Homo sapiens: one gene and its partners. The protein of the gene in region 1 purifies or fractionates together with the protein of each later gene. This does not show direct contact. Each region holds a gene or a part of one and is shown in the gene's direction. Other genes may lie near its edges. The genes, in order: AGPAT2, SLC2A12 and INTU.

Region 1 (3,651 bases):
ACCACAATCAAAACAGAGGAGGGCTCGGCGCGCTGGCTCCTTCCTGTCATCCCAGCACTTTGGGAGGCCGAGGCGGGCGGATCATGAGGTCAGGAGTTTGAGACCAGCCTGGCCGACATGGTGAAACCCCGTCTCTACTAAAAATACAAAAATTAGCCGGGTGTGGTGGCGCACACCAGTAGTCCCAACTACTTGCTAGGCTGAGGCAGGAGAATCGCTTGCCGGGAGGTGGAAATGGCAGTGAGCTGAGATCTCGCCACTGCACTCCAGCCTAGGTGACAGCAAGACTCCGTCTCAAAAAAAATAAAAAATAAATGAAGATCTTATTTTTTAATAATTTCAGATTTACAGAGAAGTTGCAAAGATATTACGGGGGACCCCATGTGGCCCTCACCAGTTTCCTCCCTTGTTAACATCTTACATCACCAAGATGCAGTTGTTAACACTAAGAAACTAGCTGGCCGGGCGCGGTGGCTCACACCTGTAATCCCAGCACTTTGGGAGGCCGAGGTGGGAGGATCACCTGAGGTCAGGAGTTCGAGACCAGCCTGGCCAACATGGTGAAACCCCGTCTCTACTAAAAATACAAAAACTAGCCAGGCCTGGTGGCAGGCACCTGTAATCCCAGCTACTCAGGAGGCTGAGGCAGGAGAATTGCTTGAACCCGGGAGGCAGAGGTTGCAGTGAGCTGAGATCACACCACTGCACTCCAGTCTGGGTGACAGAGTGAGACCCTGTCTCAAAAATAAAAAAGTAAATAAAAGATGGAACTGGCCAATGTCACTACCAGAGGGAACCAATGTCCCTTTCAGATGTGGCCCGAGCCTCCTGCAGGCAGCTAGCTTTGGAATTGCAGGTGTGTCTTGGCTGCTGCTAGAAATCATACACATGTCCTTCACAGGAGATGAGTGTGGACCTGTCCTGTTCTTTCCCCGCGCCCCAGCTGTCTGTGAAATGGACCCTAATTTACTTTCCCTCTTTCTACTGGTGGCTATTTAAGCATTTTCAGGTTTTCCTAATTCACTGCACACTTCAGCACCACAGGCTTCTCACTCCAGCCGTCGGGCGAATTCCTGGAAGATTCTGAGAGGGGAGGGGCCAGGTTTCCTCAGGGCTCTGGCCGGGCCTGCCAACCTGCCCTCCACAGAAGTATCTTGTCTGTGCGACTCCTCACTCCTGCCAGCCGCTGGGCCTGTTCCCAACACCCTGGCTGGCACCTCCTGTTATCAGGCGTTTTAATCTGTGCCAGGGGGAAGGATGAGGACAGTCTCTTGTTTCCATTTGCGCTTCTTTGATTGGCGACACGGCCGTCTTGCTAGCACCAGACAGTTCTGTGTTTCCTGTTGGTGAACTGCCGGCTTTTGCCTCCTCGTCTTCTTGGAGCGTCACAGGGGTCCGGGAAGCTGGATTGCGCAAATGAGTGTGGAGGCAAAACAGCCCTGCAGTTCCCCTGAGTGTGCGGGTGCTACCAGCCCGGGTGTGCCTTCTGGGTGGGAGGGGACGGTGGCCGGCGCGGCCTGGAGAGGAGATATCTAGAGTTGGCTGAGGAAGGCAGATCTGAGGAGGCCCCAGGCTTCCAAGTCCAGGGACGGACGGCTGGACTCATCACCAGAATTAACCATTAGGCCCCCCTTGACTCAGTTTCCCCATCTGCAACAGGGGGTCATGAGCATTGCCCCATCAGCCTGAGGTGGTGCTGCCGCAGGCCTGGGCTCACACATGGAAGGGCAGAGTGCCAGGGCTGGGGAGGGGACAGGGGTTTGTGTCGCATGGGAACAGACGTCAGCCAGAGAAGGTGGAGAGTTCTGGAGATAGAGGGAGGAGATGGCTGCTAGACACCGAATGTGCCCAGCGCCCATGAACTGTGCACCCGGAAAAGGCCAAGGAGATACATTTTATGTTACGTGTATTTTACCACAATTTTTTTTTAAAGGCCGGGCGAGTTGGCTCAGGCCTGTAAGCCCAGCACTTTGGGAGGCCGAGGTCGGCAGGTTGTTTGAGCCTAGGAGTTCGAGACCAGCCTGGCCAGAGATGGTGAAAGCCCATCTGTACCAAAAATACAAAAACTAGCGAGGTGTGGTGGCTCACGTCTGTGGTCCCAGCTAGTCAGGAGCCTGAGGTGGGAGGAGCCCAGGAGGTGGAGGCTGGAGTGAGCCCAGATTGTGACACTGCACAATGTGACACATTGTGTCACAGAGCAAGACAGAGCAAGGGGAGCCTGGGTGACAGAGCAAGACCCTGTTAAAACAACAAAAATCCCCACCAGTATGGCTTTGAGAGAAGGCCCCGGCTTTGAATCTCTGCTCTGTGGCCTGGGGCAGTTACTCAGACTCATCTGTAGAAAGTGTGGGGCCCTTAGGACTGCTGGGGGATCAAATGGTGGGGGGCACTAGTCTGCATGGAGAGGGGAGCAGCACTGGCAGCCCCCCAGTCAGCGCTGGCACAGCCTTGCCCCGGCCATCCACCCCTGCTGGAGCTTCGGAGTGGAGCTCCGTCCTCCTGGCTCCATCCCCGCCGGCTGCCCTGTGATGGGGTGCCCTATCTGGGGTGTGCCCAGAGCTTCCTGGCAGCACAGCAGGGCAGAGGTTGGGACGCTCGGAGCTGGTCAGAGTCTTCGGGTACCCCTTGGACATCCCTGGTCCCAACCATGACGGGCTGCTTGGACAAGGCCACCTCACATTTGCAGGTGCTCCAAGGGCAGCCCCCAGTGGGCTGGGCCCCTGCCAGAGTGGGGGCTGCTGTGGCCAGGGCTCAGGTGGCCCAGACCCTGGCTCTGCTGCTGCTCCTGGTGTGACCTCAGACAAGCCCCGAGCCCCTCGCCGCCTCTTCACGGGGAAAGGGAACCGGCCTGATTCTGTAGGGTAGGGGTGAGAGAGGGTCTCGGTCTCGGCTCTTTTCTGGAAGAACCTTTCGGAGGTCGTTTCAGAGGTCTCCACTGGCGCCGACACTTTCTTCCTGATGTGGCCCTGCCTTGAGGGGCCAGTGACCTTCCCCAGGGTGTGTGGGGCCCCATTTCCTCTGCTGGGGTGCAGAGGCTGCTCTCCCCGACGTGGGTCCTTCATAGCGGACGTGAGAGCCAGTGCCAGTTCCTTTCCGGCTGGGTCCCCTGTGGGGTGGATGAGGGCTGGGTGGGCCCTGGATGTGGATTTGGAAGTGGGCGCCTTCCCATGCTCCTAGCATCCGAGTTCCAGAGGCTCTGGGTTTTCCTCTGTTGCTGGGGAGACGGAGGCAGGGCAGCCGTCCAGGTGGGTGAGCCGGGCCCGGGACTCTGTCCGCTTCAGGGGCTCCCTCCCCTGTGTCTCCCGGTCTCCTGCCCCGTGCCAGGAGGGCCCCTCCCCAGCCTCCTCCACACCCCACCCCCAGGCCTTCGCGCCCCAGCCTCGGCTGCGGGATCTGTGGGACCCGTGTTCATGGTGGCCTCCCCTGCAGCATCATCGGCTGGTTCGTGCGAAGCTTCAAGTACTTTTACGGGCTCCGCTTCGAGGTGCGGGACCCGCGCAGGCTGCAGGAGGCCCGTCCCTGTGTCATCGTCTCCAACCACCAGAGCATCCTGGACATGATGGGTAGGCCGGGCCTCGGGGGTGGCTTCTGGGGTTTGAGTGGGGCCGGCTGAGCTGGGGCTGTGTGGGGCTGGGTCCCGGGGACGAGGAC
Region 2 (3,651 bases), on another chromosome or scaffold:
AGCAGTGCCCATTATTATTTTATACAAAATGTCTTGCTCCCACACACATTTCCACACTTTATGGAAGTTAGAGTTGGGAGTTATGAGTAATACTAATTAAAAAACCATGACAGCTCAGCTTCAGATGTGCAAAGTTTTTCAAGAACAGGGGAAATGGAAGTTGTAATTAGGGTCAATTTGTGTGGTGAGAGAGCATCCTCACACTAATGAAATGTTTTATTTATATTGGGAAACTAAGCTGCAGAAACCTTCAGACAAAATCACAGGAGGAATTTTTCATGCTGCAAGCCCAATTATGTAGGTACTGCCAATTTTGAAAGCAAAGGAATTCAAGAATTTATGAAAGACACAATTGTTATGCTGGAAATAAGGTATTATTTTATTTCTGTTGCTATCAGTAAAAGACTGTTTCAAAGCTTTACCTCCGTATTATGAAGATTTTACCTTCTAGATTCAGATTAAAGGAGCTTTTGTTAAATGATTCTTGTGGGCCAAGTGGTTCTACTACTGTAATCCCTTCAGATCTTTACAGCAACCCCATGAGGCACCCCAGTTCACAGATAAGGAAACTGAGGCTAAGAACAACAGCTAACATTTACCAATCATTTACTACCAGGTACCAGGGTCTCTTCTGTCTCATTCATTCTTACAACTCTATGAAGGAGGTAATATTATTATCTTTATCTTGTGAATGAGGACACAGAGAGAAACAAACCTTAAGGGACTTATCAAAGTCTAGCCGGTAACTAATTAGGACTCTGATTCCACACTGTTCTTCACCTTCAAGCCCAGGTTCCTCCTGGAAAGAAGCAAAGGGACTTGTCTTGGGTAGCACAGATATTAGAGGACAGCACAGTGATCTGAACCTTACTTTCCTAAATCCAGTCCAGGTTTGCTCTCTTGACCCATATTACCAGCCAGCAATAATGCTTCTACTTTCCAATCTGTGAATTTGGATTCCAGTTACACTCATTTCAGGACTTGTTTGCATTCTGTTTTAGTTAATTCCCTAACTTTTTATGTAACTTGTATTTTTCTATAAGATTATAAGTTTCTCGATAAAATATATATTTCATGCACCTATCAGAGCTCTGAGCTGACTGACAGTGCTTGGAAAGTTCTGTGCAATTCATAATAGGTAGGAATCATGCCTTTTTCTCTGTATTTCCAGCCTACACATGAGGGATCACATCCATGTGGCACAAGTACCACCTTCTAGTGCCATTAAATCCAGATGTAACCTAGGAAACATCTCAACACGATGCTGCCAGCAACCATGAAGGCTGATTGCAATAGCCGTCAATGAAACTTGCCTGCCAGACAGTGCTGGCACATAGTTCATGCTTAATTGTTGAAGGAGTCAATGAGTAAAGAAGCGATTGCTGAACTAAAGAGCATTTTACTTCTGCAAATACATATTGGGCACCTACTACATGAGAGGCACAGTGCTGGATGCTTCAGGGTTAAAAAAAAATGTATCTAAGACATTATTCTTTTTTTTTTTTTTTTTTTTTAGACGGAGTTTCACTCTTGTTGTCCAGGCTGGAGTGTAGTGGCGCTATCTCGGCTCACTGCAACCTTCACCTCCTGGGTTCAAGCGATTCTCCTGCCTCAGCCTCCCAAGTAGCTGGGATTACAGATGCCTGCCACCACATCCTGCTAATTTTTGTATTTTTAGTAGAGATGGGGTTTCATCATGTTGGCCAGGCTGGTCTCAAACTCCTGACCTCAAGTGATCCACCCACCTCGGCCTCCCAAAGTGTTGGGATTACAGGCGTGAAGCCACTGTGCCCAGGCCTTTATTCTTGTCTGTAGGTTTTACCAACTTATCAAAAAAATAAAAATCGAACTAACTGCAAGATAACCATTCAGCAAATACTGAGTGGATAGTAGGAATCAGATATGATGCCAGACCCTGGAGTCTGGTGAGAAACGAAAGGCATCCTCACAGTGCAGGTGCTTACTGCCAATTAGTGGAGAGCGATGAGGGATCAGGAATCCTTTGATGGAGGAGATGGCTTGATATTATACATGTATTATGTGTAATATCTATGATAGCAAAGGGGGAAGTTCAGCCAGTCCCTGGAGACTCCTGGAAGACAGGATGGCTAAGTTGAGCCGAGCACGTGTAACTGAGGCCAGTAGTTTTACGGAGCATTCTAAGGAGGGAAAATAGCTTGAACATGTTTGGAGAAGAGAGAATGGCACGTTCAGGGAGCTTCCAATACTTCGGAATTCTGGGAGCACAGAGTTCAAAGCAGGGAAAGAGGATGACAAAGGAATCTGAAGCTGGCAGCAGGCACAGCTTCCTTAGCTTACAAAAGATGTCACAAAACTTTTGTGAACTAAGTACCATGAAAACAGGAATTCTTGGGAAGGAGACCATATTAATTTAGAGACATCAAGAAAATTTCTTTTCTTTTTTTTTTTTTTTTTTGGGACAGAGTCTCGCTCTGTCGCCAGGCTAGGGTGCAGTGGTGTGATCTCGGCTCACTGCAACCTCTGCCTCCCGGGTTCAAGCGATTCTTCTGCCTCAGCCTCCCAAGCAGCTGGGACTACAGGCACATGCCACCACACCTTGCTAATTTTTGTATTTTTACTAGAGACGGGGTTTTACCATGTTAGCCAGATGGTCTTGATCTCTTGCCCTGGTGATCCGCCCATCTCGGCCTCCCAAAGTGCTGGGATTGCACGTGTGAGCCACTGCACCTGGCCTGAGAAATCAAGAAAATTTCTAAAAGTGACGGTAGTGGTGACAGAAGTGGGAGTTTTAGAAATCCTCATTTACATGTCTCCAAATTCTACAGCTTTATGGTGTCACCATTCTTTTAATTTTAAAATAAAAATAGTTGCAGGCCCCTTATGGTTAAATCCACATGCCTCCTTCCTCCCCACCAGCCTCCCATCCAAACACACACAGTACACTTCAGGAGTTTCGTGGTTCTGATCACCCTCCTGCACCAACTTCCTGCTTTTTCTGGGTCCTTGCCCTCCACTTCCAGCAACTGGTCTTTTCTCTTATCCCTGCTCCAATCCATTCTTAGATGACAGCAGCCCCCTTTCCTTCATATTCTTGAATCCCATTCATATAAGCTCTTTGTAGATTTTTACTAAGAATTTGAAGAGTGCTGTAGTGCAATTGAATATTAGGTAGGCCCATCCTGAAAATTCTCTTGTCAAATCCACCATAAGGAGTTTCTTTTTTGGGGTGTGTGTGTGTGTTTGGTTTTTGTTTTGTTTTGTTTTGTTTTGTTTTGTTTTGAGACAGAGTGTTACTCTGTCGCCCAGGCTGGGGTGCAGTGGCAGAATCACAGCTCACTGCAGGCTTGATGTTTTAGGTTCAAGCAATTCTCCTGCCTCAGCCACCCAAGTAGCTGGGATTACAGGTGCACGCCACCACACTCAGCTAATTTTTTTGTATTTTTAATAGAGACAGAGTCTTACTATGTTGCTCAGGCTGGTCTCAGACTCCTGGGCTCAAGCAGTCCTCCCACTTCTGCCTCCCAAAGTGCTGGGATTACAGGTGTGAGCCACCTAACCCAGCCAGGAGTTTCTTATAAATCAACTTTTAAAAAATCCTCAGGCTTCTTGTCATACTGAGCTCTTGGTGTCTCTCCCTTTCCCCATTCCCCACAACTCGACAACTTGTCC
Region 3 (3,651 bases), on another chromosome or scaffold:
CAGGGGTTGAGGGATGCAGCGGTAGGTAGGTATCTATTGACTGTCTAAATAAATACACAAACATGCTCATGTAAAATTATTAGTATGTCTAATATCAGTATTCAAGGAAATGTTACATGTCCCCTTATTCCTTTTCTTTTGCATCCATTTAATACTCATGGACAAATATTAATAAAGTCTAAGAAAATATTTTAGCAGGTTTTTAAAGTCTTTTGTTCCCCTTTCTATAGTGGTTTTATCCATTGGCTTGTTTTGGGAGATAGAGGGAGACATGAAAATAATATAGAATCAGAAACAGAATAAATATGCAATTGTAGATGAAAGGACTTCCAGTAACTGAGGCTCTTGACAGCTATCTTAGGGAATTCTGTGTCTCAAAAGAAGTGGTTTGATGGTATATCAAGATAAGGCAATGTAAGATTGTTTTCAACTGGGATCAAGAAGCATTAATAATAACCAAAAAGGAAAGATGACGGAGGAATTTTTAATAATCATCACATGATTATGCCATAGGCCTCTATGTCTTCGATATTTATAAGTTTATACATGCACATTTTATGTAAATATTTTCATGGTAGCTAAACCTACATTTGTAATTTTTTTCCCTATAGAAACATTATATGCTATGTGTACTATTAGAAGCTGGAGGTTGCGCATCCAAAGCTATTGGGAGTCCTGGACCAGACTGTGTATATGTGGATCAAGTCAAAACAACTCTTCACCAGCTGGATGGAGTAGATTCTCGCATAGATGAACGGCTAGCATCTTCTCCAGTCCCCTGTTTGTCTTGTGCTGACTGGTTCCTTACTGGATCACGTGAAAAAACAGATAGCTTGACCACTTCGCCTATTCTCAGTAGGCTACAAGGTACTTCCAAAGTAGCAACTTCTCCAACATGCAGAAGAACGCTTTTTGGTGACTATTCCTTAAAGACACGCAAGCCTAGTCCTTCCTGTAGTAGTGGAGGATCTGACAATGGTTGTGAAGGTGGAGAAGATGATGGCTTTAGCCCCCATACTACACCGGATGCAGTACGGAAGCAAAGAGAATCTCAGGGCTCTGATGGTTTAGAAGAAAGTGGGACCTTGCTTAAGGTGTGTGCTTATTCAAGTGTGTATGTTCTGGGAGCTAAGTTGTCTCTCCAGTCCTTGTTTTATAATTGCAAGACATTTTTTTAGTGGCATACCATTCTTCATTTGACATGGTGGTTATTTCAGTCACTGCTGGCAAACCAATGATTTTGAACCAAAAAGAAAAAGAAATATCAGGCCAGGTGTGGCAGATTGCTAGAGGCCAGGAGTTCAAGACCAGCCTGGCCAATGTGGCAAAACCCAGTCTCTAATAAAATTACAAAAAAATTGCCAGGCACGTTGGTGCACACCTGTGATCCCAGATGCATCGGGAGGCTGAGGCACAAGAATTGCTTAAACTCAGGAGGCAGAGGTTGCAATGAGCCGAGATTGTGCCACTGCATGATTTGTCACTCCAGCCTGGGTGACAGAGTGAGACTCTGTCTCAAAAAAAAAAAAAAAAAAAAAAAAAGAAATATCAAATAATAAGATAAGAACCCCTTGACATTCATATCTGTTTAACAGTACTTAGAAATAGGAAAACTTTAATCTCAATTTCCGTGTTCATCTCTTCCCTATTTGCAATGACAACAGAGAGCATCCAAGCTGTGGGGCCTGTTGGGGGCTGATCTGACTAAATAGCCAATGAAATATTCAGCAAAGAGAATCAGAACCCTAAATGTGTGTATTTGTGTGTCTGTGTGTGTGTGTGTGTATGTCTCTGTGTGTATTATCCTATTTTTATAGATTTTAAAATCTGAACCTTTGTAACACTTAAAGATTTAAAAGTTGACTCTAAAGAGGATGTTCATTTTTCAGATCATTTTTCCTAATTTTTTCCCATGAAAATACCATAAAATATCCAAATGATTATCAAAACATTCACCCTGGGAGGCTTTGTACTTATTCTAGTGATGCTGTCGTCTTTCAAAACATTTTTGAAACTTGTCATTTGGGTGGATGGAGGTGACACCAGATGAGGAGTCTGAGAAGGAGCACAAATAAACTATGAAATGCTAGTAGCATGGCATAAATAACCAGATGCAATCTCCTCATACCAAACAATAGAATACTTTTGGACCCCTAAGTGGGGTGTATTTGGAAGTACTTACATCAGTACCATACCTATTATCACAGTCGATGGAATTGGTAGGAAATAGTCTAAAAAGATTTGGACAGATTAAAGAATTACCAAGCCATGAATAGCTCCTAAGAGAAATTGAGTTAACCTTTAAGATTCAGCCATTCAACAAAGGTTGATTGAATACCTACTAAGTGCCAAGGGCCATACTACACAAAGGAGATACAGAGATGAATAAGACACAGCCCCTGACTTTGAGGAGTGCAGAGTCTAGGGAGGGGAGACAAGTATGCATACATACAAATTTGGTAATGGCTCTGGTAGGAGGTTTTCAGGGAACACCATCATGCCCTCCCAGGACATGACCCTGGGATCCCTGTCAGCCATGGATAAGCCAAGAGGTACAAGTTAGCATCAAAAATATTTAAAGGAAGCATTGCAAATGGTAAGTAGTTCCCTCAGAAGGATGTTTAATTTTTAAATTGTTTCTGCTATATGATTCCATTCTTAGATATAAACTGATCTACTTAACTATATTTTTCAGGTCACTAAAAAGAAGTCTACTCTTCCAAATCCATTTCATTTGGGAAACTTGAAAAAGGACCTTCCAGAAAAAGAATTAGAAATATATAACACAGTGAAGTAAGAAACTTTCTTATTCTTGTTCACTTAAACTCAGGAAGTTTTACAGTGAGAAAGTACAATTTTATAACATGTATTTTACTCAACAAATGTAATTCTGATATATCTTACATATTAAAGGTAATATCTGTGGTATTTCTTTAATATTTCATTACACATTTAGGAAAATGACCATATTAGTATTATGAAAGAGAAAAACACACAAAGTAATATTTCAAAATGTGAAAGTCTCCCTTTATCTCTCCACAGGTAACCTCCCTTTTGTATATTTAATATAATTTTTAAATTAGAGTTTACTATTTTTTAGAGTGTTTGGTGGATGCAGTGGTGTGCTGTCCAGTTACACCTTAGCTCAGGGTATTCCTTTCCAACACTTGAGAATGGTGGCTGCTAATGCCTCACAGCTCCCCTAGCCTTGTCACTCCCCTAGCCGTGTCCTACACGGAAACTTGTTGACTCAGCTAAGGTTACATTCCTCCCTGGGAGGAGCCCATTTCTAATGACTAATAAATAAGTGAGTACAAAGGCTTGGCCCCTTGCCTAAATTGAAGACAACTCTGAAAGGCCAGCCAAGCTTCAGAGTACACAGTGGTATCGGCTGAGACTTGTTGCCGCTGCAGCACAGTTCATCTTCTCCCTCTGCTCAATCCTGCTCAGTCACTACACCCCTACAGCTGTTTTTCCCAAGAGTACTTCCTAATAAGTTTCCTCCCGGCATATCTCACTCTCAGAGTTTGGGTCCCAAGGAACTTGTCCCATAACACTCTCTTTAGAAAATAGGTATAATTTCAAACGTTCATTGAGTAGGGAATTCTGAGGTAAAAGAAACTGAGTGAGGAGAGAATGTTTAGCAACTTA

Evidence for each region.
Region 2: the proteins of AGPAT2 (region 1) and SLC2A12 purify together in Homo sapiens (co-immunoprecipitation; one large-scale study listed by IntAct). This does not show direct contact.
Region 3: the proteins of AGPAT2 (region 1) and INTU purify together in Homo sapiens (affinity purification with mass spectrometry, with the first as the bait; one large-scale study listed by BioGRID). This does not show direct contact.

The regions. Positions count from the first base shown.
Region 1 is NC_000009.12:136,677,335-136,680,985, reverse strand, and holds part of AGPAT2 (1-acyl-sn-glycerol-3-phosphate acyltransferase beta), read left to right. Parts: intron 1-3,429; coding exon 3,430-3,563; intron 3,564-3,651. UniProt on the Homo sapiens protein: Converts 1-acyl-sn-glycerol-3-phosphate (lysophosphatidic acid or LPA) into 1,2-diacyl-sn-glycerol-3-phosphate (phosphatidic acid or PA) by incorporating an acyl moiety at the sn-2 position of the glycerol backbone.
Region 2 is NC_000006.12:134,042,577-134,046,227, reverse strand, and holds part of SLC2A12 (solute carrier family 2, facilitated glucose transporter member 12), read left to right. Parts: intron 1-3,651. UniProt on the Homo sapiens protein: Insulin-independent facilitative glucose transporter.
Region 3 is NC_000004.12:127,705,876-127,709,526, forward strand, and holds part of INTU (protein inturned), read left to right. Parts: intron 1-611; coding exon 612-1,094; intron 1,095-2,695; coding exon 2,696-2,793; intron 2,794-3,651. UniProt on the Homo sapiens protein: Plays a key role in ciliogenesis and embryonic development.